Linked DNA regions of Homo sapiens. The protein of the gene in region 3 binds, or shares a complex with, the protein of the main gene of each other region. Each region holds a gene or a part of one and is shown on either strand. Other genes may lie near its edges.

Region 1 (9,921 bases), on a different chromosome or scaffold from region 3:
GGGCACTTCGCCTTTCAGAAAGTCATCATCTTCATCTTCCACTATGTCCTGCAGAAACATCAGAAATCATCAGTAACATCACCAGTGCTGACTGAAAAGCTTTCAACAATTCCTTCCTCAGGAAGGTGTTAACGTTTGTAAAGATGGTGAAGAAAATATCTTAATTTCAAAAGAAAGCCAGTGTAGTGGCACACGCCTGTAGTCCCAGCTACTCAGGAGGTGGAGGTGGGAGGACTGCTTGAGCTCAAGAGTTCCGAATCCAGCCTGGGCAACATAGCGAGACCATGTCTCTAGAAAAACAGAACAGAACAAAAGCTCCCTCTGATAAGCACTTCCTTCTTACCAACATACCCACATAACTGCTCATCACACATTGTAATCATTTGTTTCAAGTCTGACTTGCAAACAGATTTGAAGCTCAATGGGGACAGGAAACATGACGAGTCATTCTTGCCCAGTGTTAGGAACTCTTGTACCTAACACAATGTGAATGAATTACACGCCCCTCAACAAATGAAACATAAAGAAAAAGATGAAAGGGGCTTTCCAATGATTACTTATTAAAAACAACAACAAAAAAGCCATCTTGAAGCTGCTTTTAATGAGAAAACAAATGTGCTCCCAAGCAACAGAGCAGCGAAATTCTTTATTACTGGATTCTAACTTTCCTCTCTAACTGTAACTGTCTCAGCTCCACCTCATGTGACCTGGAGGGTATGTTGCAACCTGCGTCTTCACCACCCATTCATGAAGATCTATAAAACTAATGTAAACTGCTGGGGCAATTTCAACATGAGTCAACTGGAGATTGTTACTTGGTAAGAATGCGCAAGTGGCAAAGATCTAAATTCATTCAGCTAATTTGTAATTAACCTTCGCTTCTCACATGTCAGTATGTGAAGTGTCTGGTTTAAGCAATTTATCCAAAAAAGCCATAGACTCTTTAAATAACAACAAAACCTGGGCCTGGAATTTTATAAAGGCAGAATGAGTAAGACACGGTTTTGGTGTGCTTTTTTAAAGAAAACAGGGTCTTGCTCTGTTGCCCAGGATGAAGTGCCATGCTGCATTTACAGCTCACTGCAGCCTTGACCTCCCACCTCAGCTTCCAGAGGAGCTGGGATTACAGGTGTGCACCACCACGCCCAGCTAATTAAAAAAATTTTTGTAGAAACAGGGTGTCACTGTGTTGCCCAGGCTGGTCTCCAGCAATCCTCTGGCCTTGACCCCCTAAAGTGCGGGGATTACACGCACGAACGACTTGCCACTTACTATCTCACTGTGACCTGGAACCAGAAAGGAGATTCCGAGAGTGTGCTCAATCAATCACAAACTGACCTTTTTCATGGGTTTCTTGAACTCCTGTAGCTCTTCAGCACTCATGTCTTCCCACACCTGATAAATAGGATCAATGAATTTCTTTGACCTGTCAACAAAGATCACATTTCAAAGTCAAGTTAAATACTTCGGCAGAAGTCAAAATTGGTTTGGATCTTTTCTCACAAGATCTATTACCCAAAACCAAGAAGTGAAAACTACAGCTTAAATAATTACATTTAAAAAAAACCTGGCTGGGTGCAGTGGCTCACGCCTGTAATCCCAGCACTTTGGGAGGCTGAGGTGGGCAGATCATGAGGTCAGGAGATCGAGACCATCCTGGCTAACACGGTGAAACCCCATCTCTACTAAAAATACAAAAAATTAGCCGGGTGTGGTGGCGGACACCTGTAGTCCCAGCTACTCGGGAGGCTGAGGCAGAATGGCCTGAACCTGGGAGACGGAGCTTGCAGCGAGCCGAGATCGCGCCACTGCACTCCAGCCTGGGAGACAGAGCAAGACTCTGTCTCAAAAAAAAAAAAAAAAAAGAAAAAAACAAAACAAAAAAACAACCCTCTATGTAAATGCTGTAACTAATGTGGCTCTTTCTGTATAAGAGTTCATTCACTCATGTCGATGGAGTATTGAACTACCGTTTTTCATCTTTCCATTTTCATGTGAAATTGTTTCTAAACTTTACAAAGACTCACAAGTCAGTTAGATACAGTATATCCAAATGGAAATGAAACCGTAATATTCTGGAACTCTCTTTTTTATATTTCTGTAGTAATTTGCTGAAAAGTAAGTCTAGGAAAAACAACTAATCTGGTTTCAGTCAACCAAGACTTCAGGGACCAGACAATCCCAGATGGTCATGATGCTGCTAGTTATTTTAGAAACCATAATAAGCAAAAATCCTGCTTCCTTATACAAGTGCCAAGTTAAGGCTGGCCCAGTGGTTTTCTAGAACAACTCATCTAGATAAATCGCTTTTTGTTTTTTTTTTGTTTTGTTTTTCTGAGACAGAGTCTCACTCTCTCGCCCAGGCTGGAGTGCATTGGTGCAATCTCGGCTCACTGCAACCTCCACCTCCCGGGTTCAAGAGATTCTCCTGCCTCAGCCTCCCGAGTAGCTGGAATTACAGGCGCCACCACCACACCCAGCTAATTTTTGTATTTTTAGTAAAGACAGCGTTTCACCATCTTGGCTAGGCTGGTCTTGAACTCCTGACTTCAAGTGATCCGCCCGCCTCAGCCTCCCAAAGTGCTGGGATTACAGGCATGAGCCATTACGCCCAGCCAATCGTTTGTTTTTCGTTTATCCTGTGCAACAGAATGGTATGTGGTCTCTAGAGGAAGGAACAAGACACTTGGCAGAAAATTATGAAGCAAGAAAAGACAGCACCCTCCCCTATCCTGGCACCATTATCCCCATTAACCTTACATGTTTAAATAACAGTTTAAAGAAAAACAAAAAACAAAAAACCCTTGATGTCAGTCTGGCTCCTAGTGAGGCAAAGATCTACCCACTCTGGGGTGCCTGCGCCACTCGGCAAGTCCTGCTAGGCATCCTCTACTTTGCATCTGGTGAAATATACGCAGGGAGACCACGAGATGCTCATCAACAGCGAGGAAGGGCCACTTCTGGTGAAGAGCCCTAAATCCCAATTTTGGGAAAAGCAAACATGTATCACGTTTAAATCCACCTCCTGGCCGGGCGCGGTGGCTCACGCCTGTAATCCCAGCACTTTGGGAGGCCGAGGCGGGCGGATCACGAGGTCAGGAGATCGAGAACATCCCGGCTAACACAGTCAAACCCCGTCTCTACTAAAAATACAAAAAATTAGCCAGGCGTGGCAGTGGGTGCCTGTAGTCCCAGCTACTCGGGAGGCTGAGTCAGGAGAATGGTGTGAACCCGGGAGGCGGAGCTTGCGGTAAGCCGAGATCACACCACCGCACTCCAGCCTGGGCGACAGAGTGAGACTCCGTCTCAAAAAAAAAAAAAAAATCCACCTCCTCCAGCGTCAATGTTTAAAAGTACCTACCTCTTCAGCACACAGGGATCAAAGGGGAAGAAGGTGTCCAGCGGGTTTGTGCAGATCTGCACTGAGTCTCCTCCAGCGGTACTCCTAATGACTGGCAGCATCTGGCGATTGTTCCTCTCAATGATGGTGTAGCAGAAGACGAGCTGGTACTTACTGTGGAACAAAAAAACAACACAGACAGAGGCATTAACATGCTGGAGTGACTCGGTGCAGATGTGAGCTGCGTGTGACAACTGTACCTACCACAGAGAAATTGCTGAATATAACAAGTGCTAGTAAAAATAACAATATAAAGCAGAAAGTAACACTTTTAGGGTACCGTTCTATGGGTCTTCTATTTGCAAGTTTGCTAAGGAGAAAGAAAACGTGGCTATCACTCAGAATGTGAAACTGGGCTTATATTTTAATGAGTAATAGATATTATTCATTATATTTTAATGAGTAATAGATACTATTCATTAAAAATAAATGTTTGCAAGGCAAAACTCTTAGATTACGTAACTATAGGTGTCTTTATTTTTACTGTTTGCAAAAGAATTAGAAGGTTGGTGGTAAAGGGATTCAGGAGTTACTCAGGAGGAAATAGTGGTTGGTGAAGAGACTTGCTGAAGAAGCACTGAAAAAGAAATAAGCCTTTACTGAAGGAGGGACACGGGGTTGACTAAGTCATGACCTCAAAAACAGGCACAGAAAGGACTAGGCATGCCGAGTGAGAACAGTTAAATGCATAGAAGAAAACATAAAATAAAGACAATTATGTTTTTAATTTTTCCAGTAGTTGTCTCTAAATGATTGAGCAACTTGAAAAATTATCTATTGGACAGCTTCTCCAAGATGAGGACTCAGATCTCACTTCTGTCACTCTCCATCTCAGGTTCTCAGGTCACCATGGCAACTTCAAGCCACATACTTTGATTTCTGTCCTGTTAGCCAAGGCTCACAGCACTTGACCCCTCCTCCTGGTGGAGGACACATCAGCAAAACCACACTGGAGGGTGGTTTGCACTATCAGGTAAAGTTGAAGATCTGCATCTCCTACAACCCCGCAGCTGACCGCACTTCCGGGTGTGTGACAAGGAAGCATGTGCCCACACACAAGAATGTTCCTGAGCACTAAAACACTAACACAGCCGGCTGGGCACGGTGGCTCACACCTGTAATCCCAGCACTTTGGGAGGTTGAGGCAGGCGGTTCACTTGAGCTCAGGAGTTTGAGACCAGCCTGGTCAACATGATGAAACCCCATCTCTACTAAAAATACAAAAATTAGCTGGGCGTGGTGGCAGGCGCCTGTAGTCCCAGCTATTCGGGAGGCTGAGGCAGGAGAACTGCATGAGCCTCGGAGGTGGTGGTTGTAGTGAGCTAAGATCACGCCACTGTACTCCAGCCTGGGTGACAGAGCAAGACCTTGTCTCAAATAAAAAAAAAAAAAAAGACAAAAACTAACAGATGAAATCCCAACAAAGACTCAATAAAAAAGATTCCCAGAACATAACACAGCAGTTAAAATCAAAATAAAGCTTTGTGTCAATATGGTTCAATCTCAAAAGCATCAAGCAGGCAAAAGCAACAGCTACAGAATGGTACACGCCTTTATTTACCATATCTGTACCTAGGCAGAGACTTTTATTTCAATCCCCTGCTCTTAGCCTCACATCGCATCACACTCTGTGCCTCCAATGCGCATGCCAACCCCAAATCGAGAGCCCCTGGACCAGATGGTTCACAAATGCAGTCCTCTGTCCCCACCCCGAGAACATACCAGGGGCAGCGGCCTCTGCTTTGCTTCATCCATCCTCACTCTTTGAGCTGCTCACCATCTTAACCAACGTGCTGAAGCCTCCACCCACTCACTGCCGTTGCTTATTGGTCTCTTTATGCCTTTTCCTAATCCTTTACTATCACTGAGACTCAGAAGAGAGGACACCTTGAACCAGACGCCTAGCAAAGGAGAACTAAAGAGGCTGACGGAGCTCAGCAAGCTGTTGGCTCTTATCTGTTGAAGATTTTAAGCTATGATCCGGCCTAAATATCCTCATTGAATATTCAATTCTCCAATTCGCTTTCTCCATAAAGCAGAATAACTTAGTGAAAGCTTACAAAGGAGCCAGACTACATTTAAATCTGTGCTGCCAGTCTAGCTCTATGACTTTAGGCAAGTGATTTCACCTCTCTGTACCTCCACCTCCCTGTTGATAAACAGGGTTTCATCCTAGAGGATCAAATGAGTTCTATGTAAAGTGCTTAGAACTGCCTGGCACAGAGGAAAGGCTATGGATTAGCCATAGCTACCAGACCTGAGAGAACAGAACTCTCTAAACCAATCTCTTACAGGTCAACATTTGCCTCATGTCCAGTTTATTTCTATTACTATTACAGGAGTCACTCTAATAAGCATCTATGGCTTTGCCCCTCTCAGCTTACTGGTTGCCATACTTATTTCAAAGTGCTGCCCTTTGGATAAGAAGTAGTAGTAATTTCCAACGCCATCAAAGTATAAAAACAATAGCTGTATCACAGTATTTCCTGCAAGGACTGGGTTGTTTTTGTTTGTTTAAGAGACAGGGTCTCATTCTGGAGCCCAGACTGGAGTGCAGTGGTACAATCAGGGCTCACTGCATCCTTGACTTCCTGGGCTCAAGTGATCCTCCTACCTCAGCCTCCTGAGTAGTTGGGACTACAGGCACAGGCAACCACACCCAGCTAATTTTTAAAATTTTTTTGTAGAGATAGGGTCTCACTATGTTGCTCAGGCTGGTCTTTTAACTCCTGGCCTCAAGCAATCCTCCCACCTCAGCCTCCCAAAATGTTGAGATTACAGGTGTCAGCCACCACGCCTGGCCTTTTATAATGTTACTAATTTCATAGAAATTTAACACTCTTACAATACTAGATAAACATAAATAAAAATATTTTAAATAACTCCCATCAAGAAAGCGTAAATAACTTACTTTGTGATTGCAGCAAAAAAGTTAACCACTGAGGGCAGGCAAATCTTCAGGGGATTTAGCTGGCTCATCACTATCCGCTCAAAATTCAGACTCTGAAGATACTGCAAACCTTTGGTTTAAAAAAAAAAAAGATTTTTTTAAAGGTACAAATAAGTGAAAAGTGTAAGATACTTTTAAAAGCACAAATTATCACACATTTAAAAAAAACTTTAAAAAATTATTTGCAGAAATGCTTTAAATAAAGGTCCATGCAGATAGTCACACAGTATATGGCCCAGAAGAGTATCACTAGGCTAACCACATTCATTGGTCACCAAGGCAGCTTCTCTAAAGAAAACTTAGGAAGTAGCAGGCTGTAAGATTCCACGACAATGTGAAATTCATATGTTTGCAAGCTCAGTGTATGCTGAGATAATACAGAGGGAGAAAAGACCTTGTGATTTGGTTTCAGCTAACAATCATGACAGGCAACAAAACAAAACAGCAATTTGATTCTAGCTTGCATGTCTTGTTAGTGAAGCTGAGTGCTGTTTTCAGGTGCACAGTAGTCATCTGTAGTTTTTTTTCTAAACAAGAAAACTCCAAATTTGCCTTCTACCTCAACGGACGGCAAATTTAGACAGAAACCACTTTCTTAGACTTAATGAATATAATTCTTTTCTACATGAGTAAAATAAAGACATCACATTTATTTTAAGAGGCAAGCTGACCAACTTGTACTTAAGTATATTTTCTTAGGAGTTTCTTTGATACGTATTTCAATAAAAATTACCTAAATGGGATGTCACAGCTTACAAAAACAAGATATTTAATCCAGATTCCTGGCATTAATTTATACAAAGAAAAGCAGAGCTTGTATTTACTTACCTTGTGATAAAACCTCATCCTACTAGTTCATACAACATCTTTTAGAAGCATGTAGGATGTAGGTAAACATATATAATGCAACACATACAACTTTCAGTTTAGAGCTGTGGCTGTTAACCCAAGGAGACTGCGACCCCCGCAGAGGACACCTGGCAGTATCTGGAGACACTTTTAGTTGTCACAGCTGGGGGTGGTCGGGGACTGCTGTTGGCAGCTAGTAGGTGGAGGCTGTTAAACATCCTACAGTGCAGAGGACAGCCCCCGACGATGAAGGATGATGCAGCCCAAATGGCAATCGTGCAGGGTTCAGAGACCCCGGTTTAGAGGAAGTGACCCACAAAACCATAAGAATTATTCATAAACATAAACAGAACAATTTACAATGACTTATAAACACTGTTCTTGGAGACTCTCTTCAACTAAAATACACTAATCTAATAAGTTTCAACTGACAGATTTGAATTATAAGTAACTCTTAGAAATTAGCAAAACAATACTGGTCAATTAAGTCTCAAGGCTTCAGGCAGAGTTTAATCTATATAAACTCAAACTTTAGGGTCAGCCAAACCTGGCTTCAGTTTTCTAATCCTGCCACTAACCATGTGATCTTGGGAAAATGACTTTCCTGTGCTTTAGTGCTGTCTGTAAAGGGAGAATACCTGCCATTTACTGGGCTGTTACAAGGACAACAAAGAGAAGGTGCATCCAACTGAAGCTTTGTACAGGGCGCTGGCACAGCCCAGGGCTCAGCCTCACCTCTGGAGACATCTTCACATTTCAAACTTTCAAAGGCAGAAACCTCTTTCTTAACCTCAAATCCATCTTAAGGGGTTTGTAGGGTTCTCAAGCTCAAATCTATCTTAAGGGGTTTGTAGGGGCCTATGAGCTGCTTGAAATTATTATTAAAAGTTTGAGTGCACATGCAGTTTTCTGAATCCAGTTTTTATAAAAATCTCAAAAAAGTAATGAATCACCATTCTGAAGGGTGACAAGAACACAAGGAAAATCCAGTCCAGCACTCCCACAACACTGACCTTCTTTCAGGTTTCCGCTCAAAAGCTGCTTGTGTCTAAAAACAAAGGTGTAGAACACAGCTTGGCAGGCTGAGTAAAATGGTCCATGGAGAGCAACATCGCAGAATGCCTTTGTTCCCGAATCCTGGTTATTAAGGTATATGTGCAGCCAGTTAACCAAAAGATCTAGGCATGATTTTACAGTACTAGAGAAAAGAAAAATTCAAGTCAACTTTACACATCATAAAAAAACCAGAATAACATAAAAACACACAACTGCCTTTCATTACAAACCATGCTAAGTAAGTTCATAGGTTTCTTTAAATAATACCCATGGGTACAGAGGAAAAGCAAAGAAAGGAAGGATAAGGATGGGTGCGTAGGAAGACAACCTTCCAATTACAAGGCAGAGTAGCTCTGACCTTCTAGGAACAGGTGAGCCCCTAAGAACGTCCCAAGGGATGGAAAGCAGGTTCTCCTAACCATCTCAAAGGCACCCCTCTTAAGGTGATTGGCCAAACAGGACACGTTCACCAACACCTCTCAAGAGAAAGACAGTCTGGTGGACTTCAGTATTCCCTGATGCATCCTAGTCAAGTCCTATGGTGAATAATTTTGTGGTTGGGGAAGGGTTTCAACAGCATCCTTGTCCAAAGGTATCTTTATGGGCCACTGGAAGAAACTGGCCTCCTAGATAGGTCTATTACCTTTAAAAGGGTTTTTCTTCAGCTTTAACAGATACAATAGATTTGGAATGCAAATGAAAAAATGACAAACCTACAAAAAGAATCAAAACAGTATACAACACTGTCCTCTATCCACAAAACAAATGGATCTTTAAGTGCAACCAAAAGAGATGACAAAAGCCTTACATACAGGGTTTTATATATAAAAAAGGAGACACTTTATTCTAAAATCACCACTTAGAAATATAAACATCTTGCACAGAGTAGGGATTTTATTCACTTTAAAAACATGCCAAAAAAAATGGGAGATATTTCTGACTTGAGACAATGCTATACTCTTTTTAAAGCATGATATTAAAAAGTATTCGGAAAATTAGGCTACTTACATAAGAGGAATAAATTTAGCTCTTGCCAAAAAGCTTCCAATATAATTTCCAGCAGCCTGCCTGATGATGGCAGGATTACTTGGGTCCTGCAATTTTTTCCAGAGATGTTCCAAAAATGCCTCTGCGAATCCCTATAAAAAGAGAGGGCGTCGGTGTGATCTTTTTTAATGCCTAAGATAATCTGGCTATCAAAATCCCAAGATTTTTACTTCACCAATGTAGGGAAAAGTTCTACTATCTCATAACTATCTCATGGGCTTCATTTTTAAAACACATTGAGAGAATATCATTAAAAACAAAAGGCACCTCGGGTGTTAAATAATCCAGTGGATCCCAAACCTAGCTAAGCATCACAATCAACCCGGGGCCAGGCACAGTGGCTCACGCCTGTAATCCCAGCACTTTGGGAGGCCGAGGCGGGTGGATCACCCAAGGTCAGGAGCTCGAGACCAGCCTGGCCAACATGGAGAAACCCTGTCTCTACTAAAAATACAAAAATTAGCCAGGCATGGTGGCAGGTGCCTGTAATCCCAGCTACTTGGGAGGCTGAGGCAGGAGAATCGCTTGAACCCAGGAGGCAGAGGTTGCAGTGAGCTGAGATCATGCCACTACACTCCAGCCTGGGTGACAGAGTGAGACTCCATCTCAAAAAACAAAC
Region 2 (9,921 bases), about 100 Mb from region 3:
ACTGGACAGCACCAGTATGGAGCTGGCTTCTTTAGTAATTATACAGTGGTTATATAAGACAAAGTCCTTGCTTTGGAGAAATAAAGTGATACAATCCCTGCAACTTTCAGGGATTGTACAGAAAGAAAAATGTACATCTGTGTACACAGAAAGTAAAAAAGTAAATGTAAATGAATGAAATGTTCACAATTAGAATCCAATGTACTATTTGGACATTATTCTGGAAGTCTGAAATTATTTCAAAATAAAAGTTAAAAAGTACTATAAAATAAAACACGACTACTAAAAAAATACAAGTGAGGAGGGCCGCAAAAACAAAGGTAGCCCCCGGCTAGCAAGGACCAGGATTCTACCCCAAGATTCATTCTCATTCCCAAATGACTCGCCCGCCCAAACTGCAACCAATACAAAGAACCACTGACAGCCCTCCGCCCCTCCAAAAACAGTTTAGACAAAGCACACATACTTAAACAGGAACTCCGCAGCTTGCTCATTTGGGTACCAGTCAGGAACATTGAGTTTTACTCTGAAGCATTCACCTAGGTAGTTAAGGACCTGTTTTTGTGTCGAACAACCCTCTTCCATTACAATCCTTAACATCTGAGAAACAGAGTTCCTAAGGAAAGAATCATCCTCTTTTCCTTTGATGAGCTCCTGAAAGATCTGATAATCAGAAAAGCTGACAAGTGCCTAGAATAGAAAATAAAAGGTTTAATTGCTCACTAATAACTAAAATACTTTATCTATTCACTAATAATTATCTTCTCTCATTTTTTTAATACCCAAGGAAAATTAGCACTCTGCTATTGCTGAATCAAAGTAAACTCTCTAAAATAAAGCATTCTTTGTATGATAGCCAGACAGCACAATTGCCTCCAGGGTCCTCATCTCCTGGTGTTCACAAACGTGTAGTTTCCTCCCATGCCGAATCAAGGCTGGCCTGCTTGACCAAGAGAATGTGGTGAAAAAGATAATGGGAGACTCCCAGGGCTAGATCACAAAGGGCACTGCAGCTTTTTCCTTCTGCATCTTCTGCTCTCTGTTCTCTCAGCTAACTATATGGAGGAAGACAGTTGCCTCAAGCAGCCTACAGAAAGGGCCATGTAGAGAGCAACCCCATGAGGAGACCTCCTGCCACCAACCAGCAGATTTGCCAGCCATGTGAGTGAGCCACCTTGGAAGTCCTGAAAATGACTGCAGTCCTGTCTGACATCTCCATGCAACCTCCTGAGACCCTGGGCCACAAGTGCCCAGCCAAAGCACTCCCAAACTCCCGACCCGCAGAAACTGTGAGACAGAAATGTTATTGAGTTTTAAGCTATTGAATTTTGACGTAATTTGTTTTGGAGCAGTAGACAACTAGTACAGTATTATTTTAACAAGGAGAATCCATCCAATGTGCACAGGATACTACCCCCAGTGAATTTCTTCATAACAAAAGAATGCATTCATTAAGTCATACCTTAAGTGCAAATCCCAAAGGAAGAAAGAACAGTTCTTTTCGGTAAATAAAGTTCAACATAACAGTGCCATTTTCCAAGTAGTGGAGGTTCATATTGACAGCGGAATGTTCTTCCCTCACACAGTGCATTGAAACTCCTATTGAACCAAACAACAAAAAAATCAGAAACTCATTGATATCTTAATTGCTTCAACCATTTTCTTTCTGAACAATCTTAACCTCTTAGACACAATTAAAGCCAAATCACTAAGTTTAGCCAAGACTGGCAATCAAAAATGTTTCTAAACCTCAGCAAATGTCCTCTTGCATGCAAAATCTACCCAGATTGAGAAACACTAATGTAAAATAACCGAAACTATGAATTTAAGCAAACTTCAAAGTTTCCCTCCAGGACAGAGTCCACATCTTTTAGCACTTTATATCTGCCTTAAACTGTGGAGTCTGGTCAAGACATGGTGCTTGATCTAATAGTTCCAATGGAGAAAAGTAGAATTTTAGATTTTATTTCAGTTTCAGGCAAAGACTGCTAAGACATACTACCATCAACTGATGCAAAAGAAAATCACTAGACATTCAGGCATGCTGTTTTTCTAGGTATAGTATGTATGGCTATAATTAAGGTCTGATTTTTAGCTCAACTATCAGGACAAATTGTTTAACTGTCAGGGTTGCTCAAGAATACAACATGCTGTCTTAGGCATTGTCAAAGAGAATGTTCCAACAGAGGCCAGGTGGCTGTCAGACAGAGACCCTGAGGGGTGTACCACAGTGGCCTGAACCAGAAGACATCCAAGGCCCACATTCACCTATGGCCAAGCCAGACTAGCTTCCATCTTCATAAGTAGTAACAAAAATACACATGCTCTTTCAGTTTGCAAAAGTGCAGCAGCCTGAACCAGAAGACAGCCAAGACCCACACCCACTTATGGCCAAGCCAGACTAGCTTTCATCTTCATAAGTAGTAACAAAAATACACATGCTCTTTCAGTTAGCAAAAGTGAATTTTAAAATGCTTATGATTGATAAAAATCATATATATTCAAGGTGTACAATACCTTGAATATACATATACATATATTATAATGATTTCCACAATCAAACTGATGAAAACATCAATCACCATAGTTATCATTTGTAGTACGTGTGCACGCGTGTGTGGTTGAGACACTTAAAATGTACTCATCAATTTTAAGCAGTACAGTATTACTATCATCACCAGGCTGTACATCAGATCCCCAGAACTTATTCATCTTGTAACTGCAAGTCTGTATCCTCTGACTAACATCTCTCCATTTCTTCTTCCATCCCAATTATGAAAACTTAACACAAGAATGCTCAATAGAAAAACAACAAAAAACAAAAGAAAGACCAGACACGGTGGCTCATGCATGTAATCTCAGCACTTTGGGAGGCTGAGGCAGAAGGACTGCTTGAGCCCAAGAGTTCGAGATCAGCCTGGGCAACGTGGTGAAACCCCATCCCTACCAAAAAAAAAAAAAAAAAGAAACAAAAATATCAAAGACCATTTGGATGCATCTACTTCAAAAAAAAAAAAAGTTTTAAATTTTCCTTAAAAAATATTCTAATAATCTCCAGAACTTACCATACTGAGTATAACCAGGCCCTCTGGTTTTCCATTTTGGTCTTATCATTGCAATGGGAAAATTTCTCCGAGGCATAATCAACATTCGGATGACTTTTTCAATGCCATTGATTATAAAATAGCCCCCCATTTCCTGCCAAAAAGATGAATTGCAACTTGTTAAACAAAGATACATGACTAACTGTAAACATGAACCTCACTCCTAGCCAAAGGTAGTACAACACACAGAATAGGAACACAGAGGTGAAATGTACTACTGATCCCTTGAAAACAGTACACAGACACTGTCTTTGTGTGAATTAACAGTTTTCTCAAGTATATTACAAAGGTCCTAGGGACATGGGAAAAAAGTATGGAAGAAAAACAGGGTACTTCTCTTTATCAGACAGGCTCAACCTATCTTGCCTTTCTGTCCCCTAAAATGACTTCAGTCTTCAAATAACACTAAAAAAAACTTACTCCAAAGAGGTGTTGAAAGATAAAAACTGGGCCGGGCGCGGTGGCTCACGCCTGTAATCACAGCACTTTGGGAGGCCGAGACAGGAGCATCACAAGGTCAGGAGATCAAGACCATCCTGGCTAACACGGTGAAACCCCGTCTCTACTAAAAATACAAAAAATTAGCCAGGCGTGGTAGTGGGCGCCTGTAGTCCCAGCTACTCGGGAGGCTGAGGCAGGAGAATGGCTTGAACCCAGGAGGCGGAGCTTGCAGTGAGCCAAGATTGCGCCACTGCGCTCCAACCTGGGTGAGAGAGGGAGACTCCGTCTCAAAAAAAAAAAAAAAGAAAGATAAAAACTGTAACCATTTTGCTTCCATACGAGTATGGTTTCCCAAATACGTTCAAAAACTTGATTGTATGAAAGCTCTGGAAACCAGAAATTTGGATTAGCTAAATAGAAAAATATTTTTAATAGCTCTGCTCAATATCACATTTCTGTAATAAACAGCTACTATTTACGAATTGCCTACTATGAAACAGGCATATTATAGTAGGTGCTCTATGTTATCATAACATTTAATTCTCATAACAATGAGTGGGGTAGCTATTATACCCACTTGCAGCAGAGGAAACTGAGGCTCAGGGAGATTAACTTCCCCAAACCACAAGACTGATAAGCGGAAGAGCTGTGTGTCAAACCCAGATCTGACACCAAAACCCTCTTCCCACCACATAACACCATCTACCTATTTAGTAGGCACTGTTTGTTCATCTTGATTACCTCAACTCAACTCTGCAAAGCCACCTAATATAGCTGAAAGAAATGATGAAGGGAATGCATATAAGTCATTTAATATGCGCACAGAATCTTACTGTTAGCAAAGCAGACATTTTTATTTCACTTTTTTAGTGACGGGGTCTCACTCTGTCTCCCGGGCTGGAGTGCAGTGGCACAATCATGGCTCACTGTAGTGAGGCCTCCTGGGCTCAACTGATGCTCCCGCCTCAGCCTCCCAGTTAGCTGGGACTACAGATCCATGCCACCACCATGCCCAGATAAATAGACATTTTTGACAATAGCTTTGTGGATTAAGACAGCTTGAAAAAAAAAACAAATTTTGTGGAAGTATGTCTCTATCATTCAGAAAATTAGGGAAAAACCTACCAGTTCTTCCCCCCGAACAATAATATTCTCTAATTTTACAGCCACTTTTTCATACTGTCTAATTTGATAGTTATTCAGAGCCATACACTGTATGCAGGCAAGATACTGATATCTCTTTCACCTATCCAGAAATTGGAGCACAGAAAGAAAACACTGACACACTTCTTGTCTTCTTACTCCCAACCCAGGCCTTCTCTACTGTCTCATGCCTGGACGCCCGTCATTACCTCTGCCTCCTCATGGTGCTCAATGAGGGCTTGTGGGGGAAGGTTACGTAAGTTGCAAAGCTTGGATTTCACCATGATGGGAACATAGCCAAGAAACTGCTTAATGATTCCTTTTGAGATTCCATTCACTGCCCAGTTGATATCAGCCTAAATGAAAACAAGAGAAAAAGTTACTTAACAGAAATATCTGCATTTACGAGAACAAATGAGTATTTTCAAAGACTGAGGAAGAAGATCAATTAAATTATTTTATGCCTTAGATTTAGAAGGTGGGATCTCTTAGACAATAGCACCAAGAAAGCAATTTCTGGCATAAACTTTATTAGGCACCCGCCCTACTCCCAAATATGTGCAGTGTTGAGAGTCACACAGTATCACTAGTACTCACTGTCAACTTCCCACGGTAGGTACTCCTTCGGCCCCGGCATTCTGCTGGATAAACATTGGCCTCTTTGCAGATGGTCCCTTTTGGAACTGTAGGTGGACTGATAACAGCATCCAGAATAGTAAAAGAGATACGCTCATCTTTGAAAGCAAATTCAAAGGGAGGTATAGCCTGAAATGCAATTCACACTATTAAATTGCTTGCATTTCCAAGGCATTTTTTCTCTAAGACTCTTCCAAATCTTATGTGTTCTACAAACATTGATGCCTGTGATGCCACCATGACACACCTAAAAAGGACAGTTAAGGCTACCTCCAGTTGGCCGGGCGCAGTGGTTCACGCCTGTAATCTCAGCACTTTGGGAGGCCGAGGTGGGAGGATCACAAGGTCAGGAGATCGAGACCATCCTGGCTAACACGGTGAAACCCCATCTCTACTAAAAATACAAAAAAAATTAGCCAGGCGTGGTGGTGGGCGCCTGTAGTCCCAGCTACTCGGGAGGCTGAGGCAGGAGAATGGCGTGAACCCGGGAGGCAGAGCCTGCAGTGAGCAGAGATCACGCCACTGCACTCCAGCCTGGGCGACAGAGCGAGACTCCGTCTCAAAAAAAAAAAAAAAAAAAAAAAAAAAAAAAAAAAGCTACCTCCAGTCTACTCATAACTTCACTAAATACTTAAAACCACAAAGCATTATTAGTACAAGATTGTTTTGAGTGACCACATGTGTCAGAGACTGTAGTAGGCTCTAGGGATACAGCTGTGAACAGAACAAAATTCCTGTTCTCTGAACCAAGAGCCTTGTGTATTCTTAACTTGTCTATGTGCATAGCAAGACAAATGGGACTACTGCTAATAGAGCAAGGATACGGAAACATCCTTTAGGATTTAAGACTAGATGCTTAATGTACAATGGCAACGTCAAACTGAAGCCAGAGCCATGCAAAGGAAAAGATGGTGGCCAGGCTGGGTTTCCCCTTCCACAGAAGTTACTTCTTTGTACCATTCTGTAGGGGAAGCTTTGCTGTTCTGAGGAAGGGGCATCACCAAGCTCTCCTATATATTAATTACAAGCAACCTCCTAGACTTAGTCTTAGAATAATGAAAATGAAAAAATGGAACCAAGAAAGAATACCAAGGAGGTTCTCCACCTTCACGTGAGTTAACTTACCTTTTCTAAATTTTAAAATGTTATCTAAAGCTGGTATTATTTTAGAAATTCATATTTTATTTAAAAATAAAAGCCAGATGCAGTGGCTTATACCTGTAATCCCAATATTTGGGAGACCGAGAGAGGAGGACTACTTGAGCTCAGGAGTTTGAGACCAGGCTGGGCCACATAGGGAGACCCCGTCTCTACAAAAAATAAAAATAAAAAAATTAGCCGGGCATAGTGGTGCACGCCTGTGGTCCCAGCTACTCAAGAGGTTGACGTGGGAGGATCACTTGATCCTGGAAGGTCGAGGCTGCAGTGAGCTATAACCATGCCACTGCATTCCAGCCTAGGTGACAAAGTGAGATCCTGTCTCAAAAAAAAAAACAGAATGAAGTTAAAAAAAGAGAGATTAGACAATTTGCTTTCTCAAGACGCAGCTGCACTATTTAGAAGGAAATACAGTGAACTGTCATTATTCATAATAGTTATGTTCTATACAGTTGCCATAAACACTGAATTAGCCAATACTGAACCACTGCTCCTAGGGTAAATACATGGTTAGCTTCCTGCGAGCCTCTGGTCACATTTCATCAACTGATCAACACACAATCTTGTATTATGTGTGTTTCTGTTTAAGGACAGCTTATTTAATACATATTATTGAGTCCGTAACTCATGCCTGAACAAAGCCTATGATTTCATCCACTGATCAATACACAACCTTGCATTATGTGGGTTTCTGTTTAAGGACAGCTTATCTAATATATATTATTGAGTCCCTAACGCATGCCTGAACAAAGCCTATGTTAAATGCATGTATTAATATTTTCCCCTAAAGGCACAGCACAGCCTTCTTGTGCTTAGGAACTTTATACAGAACTTTAATACTTTAATACTTTGCTTGGGGGACATTTTAAACAGCAAAATCACCAACAAAAAGCACAAAACACGGCACTAAATAGATAGTGAAGACAACCTCTGTTTATAGTTTAAGAACTTAAAACAAGAAGGCCGAGCATCACCTTGTTAGATCTCAGCTGGGAAAATGGACACTGAGCAACTCAACTTTTTTGCTGCTTCTGGGCATGGTGCTTTTGGAGTAGAAGTAAATTTTAGTGAGTAGGTGAATTTGCAAATATGGAATCCCCAAGTAATAAAAATCAATTGTATTTTGAAAAGACAGACACATAAATTCTGACTCACAGAAAGGAGGAATTCACTCCAAAGAAACTTGGCAAAATTATGTTTTGTAAGTAAAAAATATGATAACTATTTTTTCCCTTGGCTTTATAAGTATTAGTTATTTATGTTACTGTGTTTTACAGAACTTTTTCAAATACTATATTATTATAGTCCTAGCTAAGTTGTGGCATCATTTTCTATGCAGGGCCAAATTTTCTTCATCTACTTCAACCAAAACAATTATCACAAGGGACTGAATGCACAAGCAGACATGAGAATCCAGCTGTCTTTTCATTAAGCCAGACATTAAAAAGATTTTTAATAATGCAATTCATCTAACTTCTTTTTTGCTTTGGAAAATATTTTTCTTAAAAATGTTAACATATAATTGGTTTATTTATTTATGTATTTATTTTTTTGGGAGAGTCTCACTCTGTCACCCAGGCTGGAATGCAGTGGTGCAATCTTGGCTCACTGCAACCTCCGCCTCCCAGGTTCAAGCGATTCTCGTGCCTCAGCCTCCTGAGTAGCTGGGATTACAGACATGTGCCACCATGCCCGGCTAATTTTTGTATTTTTTAGTAGAGATGGGGTTTCACCAGGTTGGCCAGGCTGGTCTGGAACTCCTGACCTCAAGTGATCCACCCGCCTTGACCTCCCAAAGTGCAGGGATTACAGTCAAGAGCCACCACACCCAGCCGACTGGCTTATTTTTAAATTAGTGCTTTTCTAAAATTTCTCAATTGGATTTTTTTTTTTTAAAGACAGGTCTCACTCTGTTACCGAGGATGGAGTGCAGCGGCACAATCATAGCTCATTGCAGCCTCAAATTCCTGGGTTCAACTTATCCTCCCACCTCAGCCTCCCGAGTAGCTGGGACCAGCTACTTGGGTGCGCACCACCATGCCCCACTAATTTTTAAATTTTTGTGGAGATGGGGTTTCACTATGTTATCCAAGCTGGTCTTGAAATCCTGGGCTCAAGTCATCCTTCTGCCTTGGCCTCCCAAAGTCCTGGATTACAGGTGTGAGCCACTGCACCCAGCCCGATTAACTTTTAATTAGGAATTTTTTCTCACAGACATGATACTGTAACAATCCAGGCACAATACAAATAACCCCCACCCCTCTAGTCTTTCTAAACAATAAATCTTAATGGCTCCCATATTATTTGCCGAATAGAGTTCAAGAATCAGACTGGCAATCAAAGCTCTCCACATTATCTGTATCCCTATCTCCCACAACACAAATCTTACCCAACAAAACCACAGGTAGGGTCCCCGAAGCATGTGACTCTGCTCTACTCTTCCCCTGGACGAAATGCACGTTTCTCACTTCTTGAACTCATCTAATCCTGCCCTTTCTCAAACTCCTGGATTAGTTGCGCCGCCCATAGGCTCCCGCAGTAGCCCACACAATCCCTTGGCAGAGCAGTTCTCAAGAACATTGGCATGCACTGCTTTCATTATCTTCACCCCTTCAACCCCCAAACACGACAGGGAGCACTTAAATGCATGAACTGTCTCGTACACGGGACTGCCTCCTCCACATCCTCTGAGCCTAGTGCCTGGAGACACTGGGGATGCTTACTAAACGAAGCTTTCCCCCACCATACTCACTTGAATTCTGCTACCATTACTCTACGCTAATAATGCAATTACACTTTTCGATTCAATCTTGCTTTCATGACTCATTTATACCTTCCTCGGCACCTGCTTAATTCATAACAAATGACGAGTAGTTTCTCTCTTTAAAGCTCTAAGAGAAGGAAACTGAAGGATAACCTTGAACATTACACTGTACCTACAAATACGTTCGGGATCTTTCGAGGTACGTTTTGGAGAGGTAAGTCTTCAAGTGATATAAAGCCGTGTGCATTGTGAAGCACATCCCCAGATAAGCCACTTCCTCACTCTCACAGCACCCCGAAACTGTCCAAACTACGGTTCACAATCACTTTTCACTCCAGAATCACGAATACATCTCTTAAGACGCCTCGACTCCAAGTCTCACGAAGGCCAGTACCGCGTCCTGTTTAACATGTTGTGCTCTCCCGCTTACCCACCAAGCCTGTCAGGATCAAGGAGCACATGCATCTGGGGTCATACTGTGACCTCCCAGCCACCTCCCTGGGATTGGCCTCGCCGCGGCAAGGGCGCCGGCGGACGCCGCGCTCACCTGCACCGCGAGGCCGAGACCCTCGTGCACAGCGTAGTTGAAGGACTCCACGTGCGCCCGCGTCAGCTCCTGCAACGCTGCCTTTTGCTGTTCCCGCGGGATTCCATAAGAGGGGTCAGTCAAGTGCT
Region 3 (10,048 bases):
CTGCTCAACTGGCCCTTCTTCAGAGAGGTCTCTCTGATGACCCTACAAAAATTCTCTTCACTATCTTCCACCCAAGTCATCCTATACATATGTATATACCTTGCTGTGTGGTGTTTTTTCTTACAATGTTTTTAGTCCTCTCTAAAATTGTTTTTTATTTGTATCTGTTTTCTATCATCCTGTCATGATAACTATGGCCAAAAGACAAGATGACAAATACTGTCACAAATACCACCGGAAGATGTAGAAAACAGTGTGGAAAATTTAGAAGAGACACATCTTAGAAAAAATTACACTGGTCTGCCATTCAAAGCTTTGCAATGCTGCTGGATAAGATGCAGATGTTTCAAACATGTCTCTGCATGAGAGCTGCTAGATTCTATTTCCACAATGGAACATAGGGAAAAAAAAAAACCACTTGTAATGGGAAGATGCACCAGGAAACACCTATTCTAGACAATAAACCATTTCTTTTTATAAACAACACTTTGTGGTAAAATTGTGTCTGTGTAGCCGGGCGCGGTGGCTCACGCCTGTAATCCCAGCACTCTGGGAGGCCGAGGCAGGTGGATCACGAGGTCAGGAGATCGAGACCATCCTGGCTAGCGTGGTGAAATCCCATCTCTACTAAAAATAGAAAAAATTAGCCGGGTGTGGTGGCGGGTGCCTGTGGTCCCAGCTACTCGGGAGGCTGAGGCAGGAGAATGGCGTGAACCCAGGAGGTGGAGCTTGCAGTGAGCCGAGATCGCGCCACTGCACTCCAGCCTGGGCGACAGAGCGAGACTCCATCTCAAAAAAAAAAAAAAAAAAAAATTGTGTCTGTGTAACCATGAAAGAACCTAGAATACTAGAAGAGCTCTGAGAGAAGACATTGACAGCACCGCGGGGGCAATTCACCCACCGCCTCATCCACCAGCATCAAGTGGCAGCAGAAGTTAAAGGCAGAAGGTGCACACTGCTGGAGTGTGTCAGGATATAGTCAATTTTATGAAGACAAGACTGTGCAGATATAGCGCAGGAATCGCCGTCATCTGGACTGAGCATGAATATCCACAAAAGTCCTGTGTCCCCACAGAAGGCTTTTGGATACCTCATGGCAAAACATTTCAAAGACCTGCCAGACCCACAGATGAGCTAGTTACCTTCTTTTTTAAAAAACAGGAAAGTAAGTATTCCTGGGATGACAAGTAGTTGTCAGTAGTATTGGCAGATATTTTTGAAATGGGGAATACACTTAATTTGTCCCTTCAGGGTAAAGGGAATGTTTTAACAAAGTGAGCATCAGAATGGCTGGGTGTCTTGACTGCCTTATCTTTATATTTATGATTGCAAATGTCAAGTAGGCCCTCATGCTGCTTGCAATTTTTGCTAGATTCCTGATTCCATTCTTCCATTTCCAAGAGTTATTACACCTCTGGTCTCCTCTCAAACTTCCCACAGCCCTCCCCACTCCCACTCTCAACTGATGACTTGCTTCCATTTCAATGAAGCTCAGAGAACAGACCTTCCACCTCATGCACCTGCGCTGTCCCACGTGCTCTCCCTTCTTTCCTGGTTCTGCAGCAGATGAACCCTCTATGCTAGGGCTGACCCCTCCATGGTGCTGCAGATCCTCTCCCTTCTCACGCACTGCATTAGTCTGTTTTCACACTGCTGATAAAGACATACCCGAGACCGGGCAATTTACAAAAGGAGGAGGTTCAAATGGACTTATTCAGTTCCATGTGGCTGGGGAAGCCTCACAATCATGGTGGAAGGCAAGGCCTTGACCTCCTAAAATCCTGGGATTATAGGCATGAGCCACCAAGCCTGATCTAATTTGTACTTGTCTGATAAGTAATGACGTTGCGTACATTTTCATATATTTATTGACCATTTAGCTGTTATCTTTTATGAAATACCTGTTCAAATCTTTTTGCCTATTTTTAACTGGATTGTTTATTATTTCTTAATAGATCGGTAGGAAACCTTTGTTACATGTCTTGTCGAATATGTATTGTGAATTTCTTCTCTCAGTTTTTAGTTTGCTTTAATTATGTCTTTTTTTTTTTAATTTTTTTTAAAGACAGGGTCTCTGTCACCCAGGCTGGAGGGAAGTGTCATGATCACAGCTCACTGCAGCCTTGACTTCCCGGGCTGAAGCAATCCCCCCGACCCAGCCTCCTGAGTAGCTGGAACTACAGGCATGCCCACCACACCCAACTAAGTTTTAAAAAAATTTTGTAGAGATAGGATCTCTCTATGTTGCCCAGGCTGATCTTGAACTTCTGGGCTGAAGCAATCCTCCCACCTCGGCCTCTGAAAGTGCTAGGTTCTAGGCGTGAGCCACTGTGCTCAGCCTAACAATGTCTTCTGATGAATCGAAGTTCTTAATTTAATGAAATCCAGTGTAATGACCTTTTCTCTTAGGAGTAGTGCTTTTTGTGCCCTGTTGATGAAGTCTATTCCACACCAAATCATAAAGATATTTACCACTTTTTTTTTCTAGAAGCTTTATGGTTTTACCTATCACATGTAGGATCTATTTGAATTAATTTTTGTGTACAGTGTGAGAAAGGGGTCAATAATTTTCTCATATGCATGTCTGATTGATTCAGAACCATTTATTGAAAAACTATTCTTTCAGCTCACGCCTATAATCCCAGCACTTTGGGAGGCCGAGGTGGGTGGATCACTAGAGGCTATGAGTTCGAGACCAGCCTGGCCAACATGGCAAAATTCCATCTCTACTAAAAAATACAAAATTAGCCAGGTGTCATGGCACATGCCTGTAGTCCCAGCTACCTCTACTTGGGAAGCTAAGGCCCGAGAATTGCTTGAACCTGAGTGGCAGAGGTTGCAGTGAGCCGCGATTGTGCCATTGCACTCCAGCCTGGGCAACAGAGCAAGACTCTATCTCAAAAAAGAAACAAAGAAAAAGGAGAAAAGCTATTCTTTCCTCACTGAATTTTAGTAGCAGCTTTGTTGTAAATCAGATTATTTTATATGTACTTATGAGTCCGTTTCTGGACTTTCTATTCAGTTCTGTCAATTTTTTGGTCTATCCTTGCATCACACTAGATTACTGTATGATTTATTTTTTTCTCTTTTATTTATTTTTTAAATCTTTATTCTTTTTTCTCTACTTTTTCTTTTAACATTTTTTAATTTTGAGAAAAGGTCTTGCTTTGTCATGTAGGCTGGAATGCAGTGGCGTGACCACAGCTCACTGCAGCCTCAACCGATCCTCCCACCTCAGTCTCCTAGGTACCTGGGACTATTGGACTGTGCCACCACACCCAGCTAATTTTTTAATTTTTTGCAGAAATGAGGTCTCATTATGTTTCCCAGGCTGATCTCAAACTCCTGGGCTTAAGTGTTCTGTCCACCTTGGCCTTCCAAAATGCTGAGATTACAGGCTCGATGTTAAACAAACTTGCATTCCTAGAATAAACCTAACTTGGCTGTGATTTATTATCCTATTTATATATTGCTGAGTACAACAGGATGTACATTCAATTTACTGATGTTTTGTTTGGAACTTTTGCATGTATGTTTATGAGAGGAATTGCTTTTTAATTTTGACTTTTCTTGAAATATCCTTGTCAAGTTTTGGTGTCAAGGTCATGCTTGTCTCCTAAAATGTACTGGTAAATGCTCTTCTTTTTTCATTATTTGGAAGCATCTGTATAAGATGGGTGTTATTTATTTCTTTTTAAAATTATTATTATTATTGAGACAGAGTCTCTCTCTATCAACCAGGCTGGAGTGCAATGGCATGATCTTGGCCCACTGCAACCTCTGCCTCCCAGGTTCAAGCAATTCTTGTGCCTCAGCCTCCCAGGTAGCTAGGATTACAGGCGTGCAACACCATGCCCAGCTAATTTTTGTATTTTTAGTAGAGACGAGGTTTTGTCATGTTGGTCAGGCTGGTCTCGAACTCCTGGCCTCAAATATTCTCCTGCCTCAGCCTCCTAAAGTGGTGGGATTACAGGCGTGAGCCACCATGACTGGCCTATTTCTTTCTTAAAAATTTGGTAGAATTTGGCCAGGCGTGGTGGCTCATGCCTGTAACCCCAGTACTTTGGGAGGCCGAGGTGGGCAGGTCAGGAGTTCAAGATCAGCCTGGCCAATATGGTGAAACTCCATCTCTACTAAAAATACAAAACTTAGCCAGGTGTGGTGGTAGGCGCCTGTAGTCCCAGCTATTTAGGAGGCTGAGGCAGGAGAATTGCTTGAACCTGGGAAGCGGAGGTTGCAGTGGGCTGAGATGGTGCCACTGCACTCCAGACTGGGTGAAAGAGCAAGACTGTCTTAAAAAAAAAAATTGGTGGAATTTTCACATTTATTGGCCTAGAGTTGTTCAGAATATGCCCTTATGATCTTTTTAATGTCTGTGGTATTTGCAGTGATGCCCCTACATATTGGTTAGTGATGCCACTGATATCAGTTTATTTTGATTTTCTTTGCTCCGTTGCTCAGACTGGAGCACAGTGGCCCGATTATAGCTCACTGCAGCCTTGAGCTCAAGCAAACCTCCCGTCTCATCCTCCCAAGTAGCTAGGACTGTAGGTGTGCATCACCAAGCTGGGCTCTTTTCTTTTTGATCAATCTTTCCAGAGTTTATCGAATGTATTAGTATTTTCAAAGAGCTAATGTTAGTTGGTTGAGACTCTCTTCTTAAAAAATATCTTTTAGGCTGGGCGTGGTGGCTCACGCCTGTAATCCTAGCACTTTGGGAGGCCGAGGTGGGCAGATCACTTGAGGTCAGGAGTTCGAGATCAGCCCAGCCAACCTGGTGAAACCCCGTCTCTACTAAAAATACAAAAATTCGCCAGGCGTCGTGGCGCGTGCCTATAATCCCAGCTACTTGGGAGGCTGAGGCAGGAGAATTGCTTGAACCTGGGAGGTGGAGGCTGCACTGAGCTGAGATTGAACCATTGTACTCCAGCCTATAGAGATGAGGACTCAATATGTTGGGCAGGCTGGTCTCCAACTCCCGCCCTCCAGCAATCTGCCCGCCTTCGCCTCCCACAGTGATGGGATTACAGGCACCAGCCACCACAGCAAGCCTTTGTGGAGCCTATCGAAGCTTGCTTTCTCTTTTATTAATTTCTCTTTTTTAAACATTTCCTTCATCCCATTATTTTTCAGTTTAATCTTTTTTCTAACTTCTTGGGATGTACGATTATATCAAAAATCCTCTTCTCAATGAGATCTCTCTTGAACATCACATTTCAGACTGAAATCACCTTGTTGTTCCCATTCTCCTCTCCTCTTTATTTTTCTCCTTGGAACTCACCACCACTTAACATACCACATATTTTCCTTATTTATTTTTGTCTCTCCCCATCAGAATACAATCTCCATGAAGGCAAGGACTTTTGTTTACTTTGTTCACTGCTGAATCCCCAGGACACAAACCAGTTCCTGTTTAATAAATAAAACAAGGAATGAATGTGTTAGATGAAGAAACAATAAGAGCTAAATTTATTGAGCACTTACTGAGACTCAATTATATTCACTCATGCATTTATTTATTCAGTTATTTACTTATGCAGAGAAGGGGTCTCGCTTTGTTGCCCCGGCTGGTCTCCAACTCCTGGCCTCAAGCAATCCTCCCGACTCAGCCTCCCCAGGATTACAGGCGTGAACCAGCACGCCCGGTGGAGACTCAATTATAAGGGGCTCACAGATAACATCTAATTCTTACAGAGGAGTAAACTGAGGCACAAGTAAGCAGGAGAGCCGTGATTAGAAACCTAGGTCTAACTCACAGCCCGTGAGCTTTCCTCCAAGCCCCGAGGCTTCCCCTTAAAAAAGCCAGCAAGGGGCGAGACTCGGAGGGCAGAACCCACGGAGGGCGGAACCCACAGAGGACAGAGCCCGCGCTCGCGAGCACGGCCTTGTCCGACCCCCCGTGCCGCCGGAGGAGCAAGTCTGTCTTGGAATGAATGATCGTCGGAACGGAGCTTGATCAAACCACTCAGCAGTAGGCGTCGCCCACTTTCTTATTGGTTGGTTTTGGTTCTCAAGAGTAGGAAAGTTAGGTAGTCCGCGAGGGGTCTGCGAGCTTTGCGGAGCCTCGCCCCCGAGCGCGCGGTTTCCCTGCCGCGCAGGCGCACGGAATCCTAGGCGCGGATCTCGCGTTTCCGGCCGGAAGCTTCTCCAGCCTTTCCCGGAAGCTGCGCTCGCTACCCGGGTAACGGGTCCCGGCTGTGGAAGCTCCCGCGGCGCCGCGATGGACCTCGAGGAGGCGGTAAGGAGGCGGTGCACCTGGCGGGCCACGATCGCCGGGGCCGGAGGAGAGAGAAGCTGAGGAGGAGCGGCGGAGGACGCCGCGGGTTGGGGCGGCGACGCCACCGGCTGGAGGAAGGCGGGGCGGAGGGCTGCAGGGCGGGCTAAGGACTGGGGCTGGCCGGCCGCATGCGCGCGCGGCTTTGGTAAAGAGGCTGGAGTTTCTGGCTCGGCGAGGTTGTGGGGGAGGGAGGGTGTGGTGTTTGTCGTTATGGGTGTGTTTAAGGATGAAGCTGTGGGTTTTGTGGGGTGGCCACCCACAGGGCTCATCCTCGAGACTGGACCACCCACAAGTTCCCTTTAATGCTGGGGTGGGTGAGGGAGGGGCAGGGGTTGGAACCTGAGATGCCGCCGGGTAACCCCTGTCGGTCTCTCCGGGAATCCTTGCCACTGTCTCCAGCAGGGATTCTAAATTCGGGTTTGGGAACTCCCCAAATTGTCCAGCTATCATTCATCGTAGTGTTAGTACGGGGTCACTGAACACTTTACCAAGTTGCCAAAATTGATTTGGCATGCATTTTGTTTTGTTTTAGGTACTACGTAAAATGGCACATTTTTGTTTTTTATTTTTGAGACAAGATCTCACTTCTTCCCCCAGGCTGGAGTACAGTGGCACGATCACGGCTCACTGCAGCCTCGAATCCTGGGCTCGAGAGATCCTTCCGCCTCAGCCTTCCAATGAGCTAGGGCTACAGACATGCACCACCAAGCCCGGCTAATTTTTTTTTTTTTAATTTTTTGTAGGGGCAGGGGTCTCGCTATGTTGTCCAGACTGGTATTGAACTCCTGGGCTCAGGCGATCTTCCTGCCTCAGCCTCGCAAAGTGCTGGGATTATAGGGGTGATCCCCCGCCCTCGGCCAAATGGCACACGCTTTGATGGTATTAAATGATACTCGATAATTAGATCAATGCTAACAACAAGTCAAACTCCAAAGAGTTGGGGATCAGAGAATTAGGCCTGTATATACAGGAGCAGTACGGTCTTATAGTAGAGGCTTAAAAAATGTTTACTGATGATGGTTGGCTAACTTCTGTAAATGCTAGGCTGATGAAATGAATAATTGTAACTCACCATTAGCTAGCGTATACCCAGACTAGGGATCATGTCTGGTCTGTTTTGCTCACCATTGAATCCCCAGCACCTAGTAAAAAGCCTGGTACACACATAGTTGATACCCCTTATGCTGCCGAGTGAATAAATCGAAACTTGAAACCATTACAAATCTAGTTCCTCTGTGGTATGCGCTTTTAGTGTCCTGGAGGAGTTCCAAATTGTATTTGCATTTTTTAAAAGTCTTCTCTATACTTGTTTGTCATCTTCTCACAGTATTTTCAAGGAGCTTTGTTTACTCATCTTTGGTTCCAGTTTACCCCTACTACCTCCTTTTCTTTTTTTTTCCTGTCACACTGCATATTTCAATAAATTTTCTCCAGTAGTTTAATTCGGTTTCATACCGCGCCTCTCCTTGTTTGCGGATAATCTCTCTGACATATTTTTTATTGTCTATGATTTTTTATTAATAAAGTTGCCAGGAACCCATTAAATAGAACTGCAAGGTTTAGGTACGATGTATTGAATGTGGCTTGATGGGAACACCTTTTCTGTCCTCTTCTCCCATAGGAAGAGTTTAAAGAACGCTGTACTCAGTGTGCTGCTGTCTCATGGGGTCTTACTGATGAAGGCAAATATTATTGCACTTCTTGCCACAATGTTACAGAGGTAAGTAACAAATATCATTTATGAATTTGCTTATGTTTTAAAAATTGCCATTTCAGCCTGATATGTAGTCTAAGTCCCAAAGAATTGGGTTGATTTTTGTCACTCATGCAATGCCAACATTCCAAGGATGCATGTGGTCTTAGGTACTTACACATAGGTTAAGGGATTTGTGAATTAGATTGAGGATGAGTTTTTGAAATTATGTTGGGCCACATTTATAAATGATTTCTTATTCAGAGTATGTGGTTGAGGGAAATAATTAAAATTGTACTTAGAAGATGATGCATTTCTTTTTATCAGTTAGTACTTATTTACATTTTTTTAAATGTGTCATGGTGGCTTAGAGGTTTGGAAGATGGAATGTTAGAAAACTTGAGGACTGGGCCGGGCGCAGTGGCTTACGCCTGTAATCCCAGCACTTTGGGAGGCTAAGGCAGGTGGATCACCTGAGGTCGGGAGTTTGAGACCAGTCTGTCCAACAATGGGAAACTCCGTCTCTACTAAAAATACAACAATTAGCCAGGCGTGGTAGCATGCGCCTGTAGTCCCAGCTACTTGAGAGGCTGAGGCAGGAGAATCGCTTGGACCCAGGAGGCGGAGGTTGCAGTGAGACGAGATCACGCCACTGTACTCCAGCCTGGGCAGCAGAGCAAGACTCTGTCTAAAAAAGAGAAAGAAAGCTTGAGGACTGTTGGGAATATTGGAATTATTCTTCGTTATCCTTTTACCTTTGTATAGTACCTTACAGATTACAAAGTTTTTGGATCCATTATCTCATTTCCTCCTCATCACTAACTGTGAGAGCCTATTGATAGGGCTCAGAAGTTGAGTGAGTTTGCCAAAGTTACCCAAGTACCAGGACTTGAATGTGAGTCTTCTGACTTCAGTGTTCATTTTACCCATCACACCTGCCTCTTAAAGTAGAGATTGTCATATTGTCCTGTGTAACCTTGGTAAACGAGGCTACCTTCACATTGTGAGTGCTAGGTCCTATTGTGGTGAACACACCTTCGGGCCAGCATCACCAAAGTGATCAAGGGTGTAGAGAGTCTGCTGCTGGACAGGCTAAATGTGCCAGGACTCTCCTCAGTGGAAAAGGATTTCCTCAAAGTCTACAGATCCAGGAAGGAACAAATGTTACCTTCACCATACAGGCTTAAGAAAGGCAAATTTGGGACATTAAAAGTAACTGTGTAGACTTCTGCTTCTGGCTAAGATGGACTAACAGAGACCAGACTTACCTTTGTCCCCTAAACAATGAAAAACCTGGACAAAATATATTAAATGAGTAAAAGGAAAAACATTTTCCCTTGACAAAACTGGTGAATTGAGCTTGCAGGTGTGTCACACAAGTGCTTTTCCTTGAGGCAGTGTTCTTGAGTCTGCAGCTGGAATGCTTATCTCTGCTTCCTGTTTAGTCATACAGAATATTAAAAAGATATGTGCTCACTTGATGAAATTGTTGGGGTGATGGAGATATTTATTATCTTGATTATAGTGGTGGTTTCATGGAGATATATTTTGTGTGTGTGTCTGTGTGTGTCAGATTGTGCACCTGACAGATGTGCAGTTTGGTCCTCACCCTCATTGTGTAGTAAGGAGCTAGCAGTTTTACTCACTGTTGCTTTTGTACTATAGTGCAGGTGTAAACCCAGTGAAGAAAGATTATGTCTAATGGAGTATTTGCCATTAGTAGATGAAGTCAGCATACTATTTTTATAGGAATTGAACTACATTAACTAATTGCTTTTCTATTTTTGATTTTGATACTGTTTCCGTTTGATTCTGTTTGATCAAATCTGCTGCAGTCATTTTTTAGTTTGAAAGATCCTAATACTTCTCCCTAGCTCCACATTTGGAAGACTGTCAACTCCTGTGGAGTAATTTGTCAAGAATGTAGAGTTCATGAAGGTGGACAACATCTTTATAAAGACCAAGAACCTAGCTCAGTGCCTTCCTTTCAGACGACAGGCTTAAAGGAAAAAAAAGTTACGTGTTGCACAACTTCAGTAGTTATTCTTGGCTTTATGGCGGTCCAGGCATGTTCTTCA

Evidence for each region.
Region 1: TAF1B (region 3) and RRN3 share a complex: the UniProt entries of both Homo sapiens proteins name them as parts of the pol I pre-initiation complex.
Region 2: TAF1B (region 3) and POLR1B share a complex: the UniProt entries of both Homo sapiens proteins name them as parts of the pol I pre-initiation complex.

The regions. Positions count from the first base shown.
Region 1 is NC_000016.10:15,061,858-15,071,778, forward strand, and holds part of RRN3 (RNA polymerase I-specific transcription initiation factor RRN3), read right to left. Parts: intron 9,395-9,921; coding exon 9,264-9,394; intron 8,398-9,263; coding exon 8,213-8,397; intron 6,421-8,212; coding exon 6,312-6,420; intron 3,515-6,311; coding exon 3,362-3,514; intron 1,427-3,361; coding exon 1,339-1,426; intron 49-1,338; coding exon 1-48. UniProt on the Homo sapiens protein: Required for efficient transcription initiation by RNA polymerase I (Pol I). Required for the formation of the competent pre-initiation complex (PIC).
Region 2 is NC_000002.12:112,542,544-112,552,464, reverse strand, and holds part of POLR1B (DNA-directed RNA polymerase I subunit RPA2), read right to left. Parts: coding exon 9,794-9,921; intron 6,801-9,793; exon of another isoform or gene 6,543-6,800; intron 5,454-6,542; coding exon 5,286-5,453; intron 5,045-5,285; coding exon 4,898-5,044; intron 3,199-4,897; coding exon 3,066-3,198; intron 1,600-3,065; coding exon 1,463-1,599; intron 691-1,462; coding exon 467-690; intron 1-466. UniProt on the Homo sapiens protein: Catalytic core component of RNA polymerase I (Pol I), a DNA-dependent RNA polymerase which synthesizes ribosomal RNA precursors using the four ribonucleoside triphosphates as substrates.
Region 3 is NC_000002.12:9,837,322-9,847,369, forward strand, and holds the start of TAF1B (TATA box-binding protein-associated factor RNA polymerase I subunit B), read left to right. Parts: upstream 1-6,152; 5' UTR 6,153-6,220; coding exon 6,221-6,238; intron 6,239-6,639; exon of another isoform or gene 6,640-7,138; coding exon of another isoform or gene 7,139-7,156; intron 7,157-7,898; coding exon 7,899-7,997; intron 7,998-8,735; exon of another isoform or gene 8,736-8,865; intron 8,866-10,048. UniProt on the Homo sapiens protein: Component of RNA polymerase I core factor complex that acts as a GTF2B/TFIIB-like factor and plays a key role in multiple steps during transcription initiation such as pre-initiation complex (PIC) assembly and postpolymerase recruitment events in polymerase I (Pol I) transcription.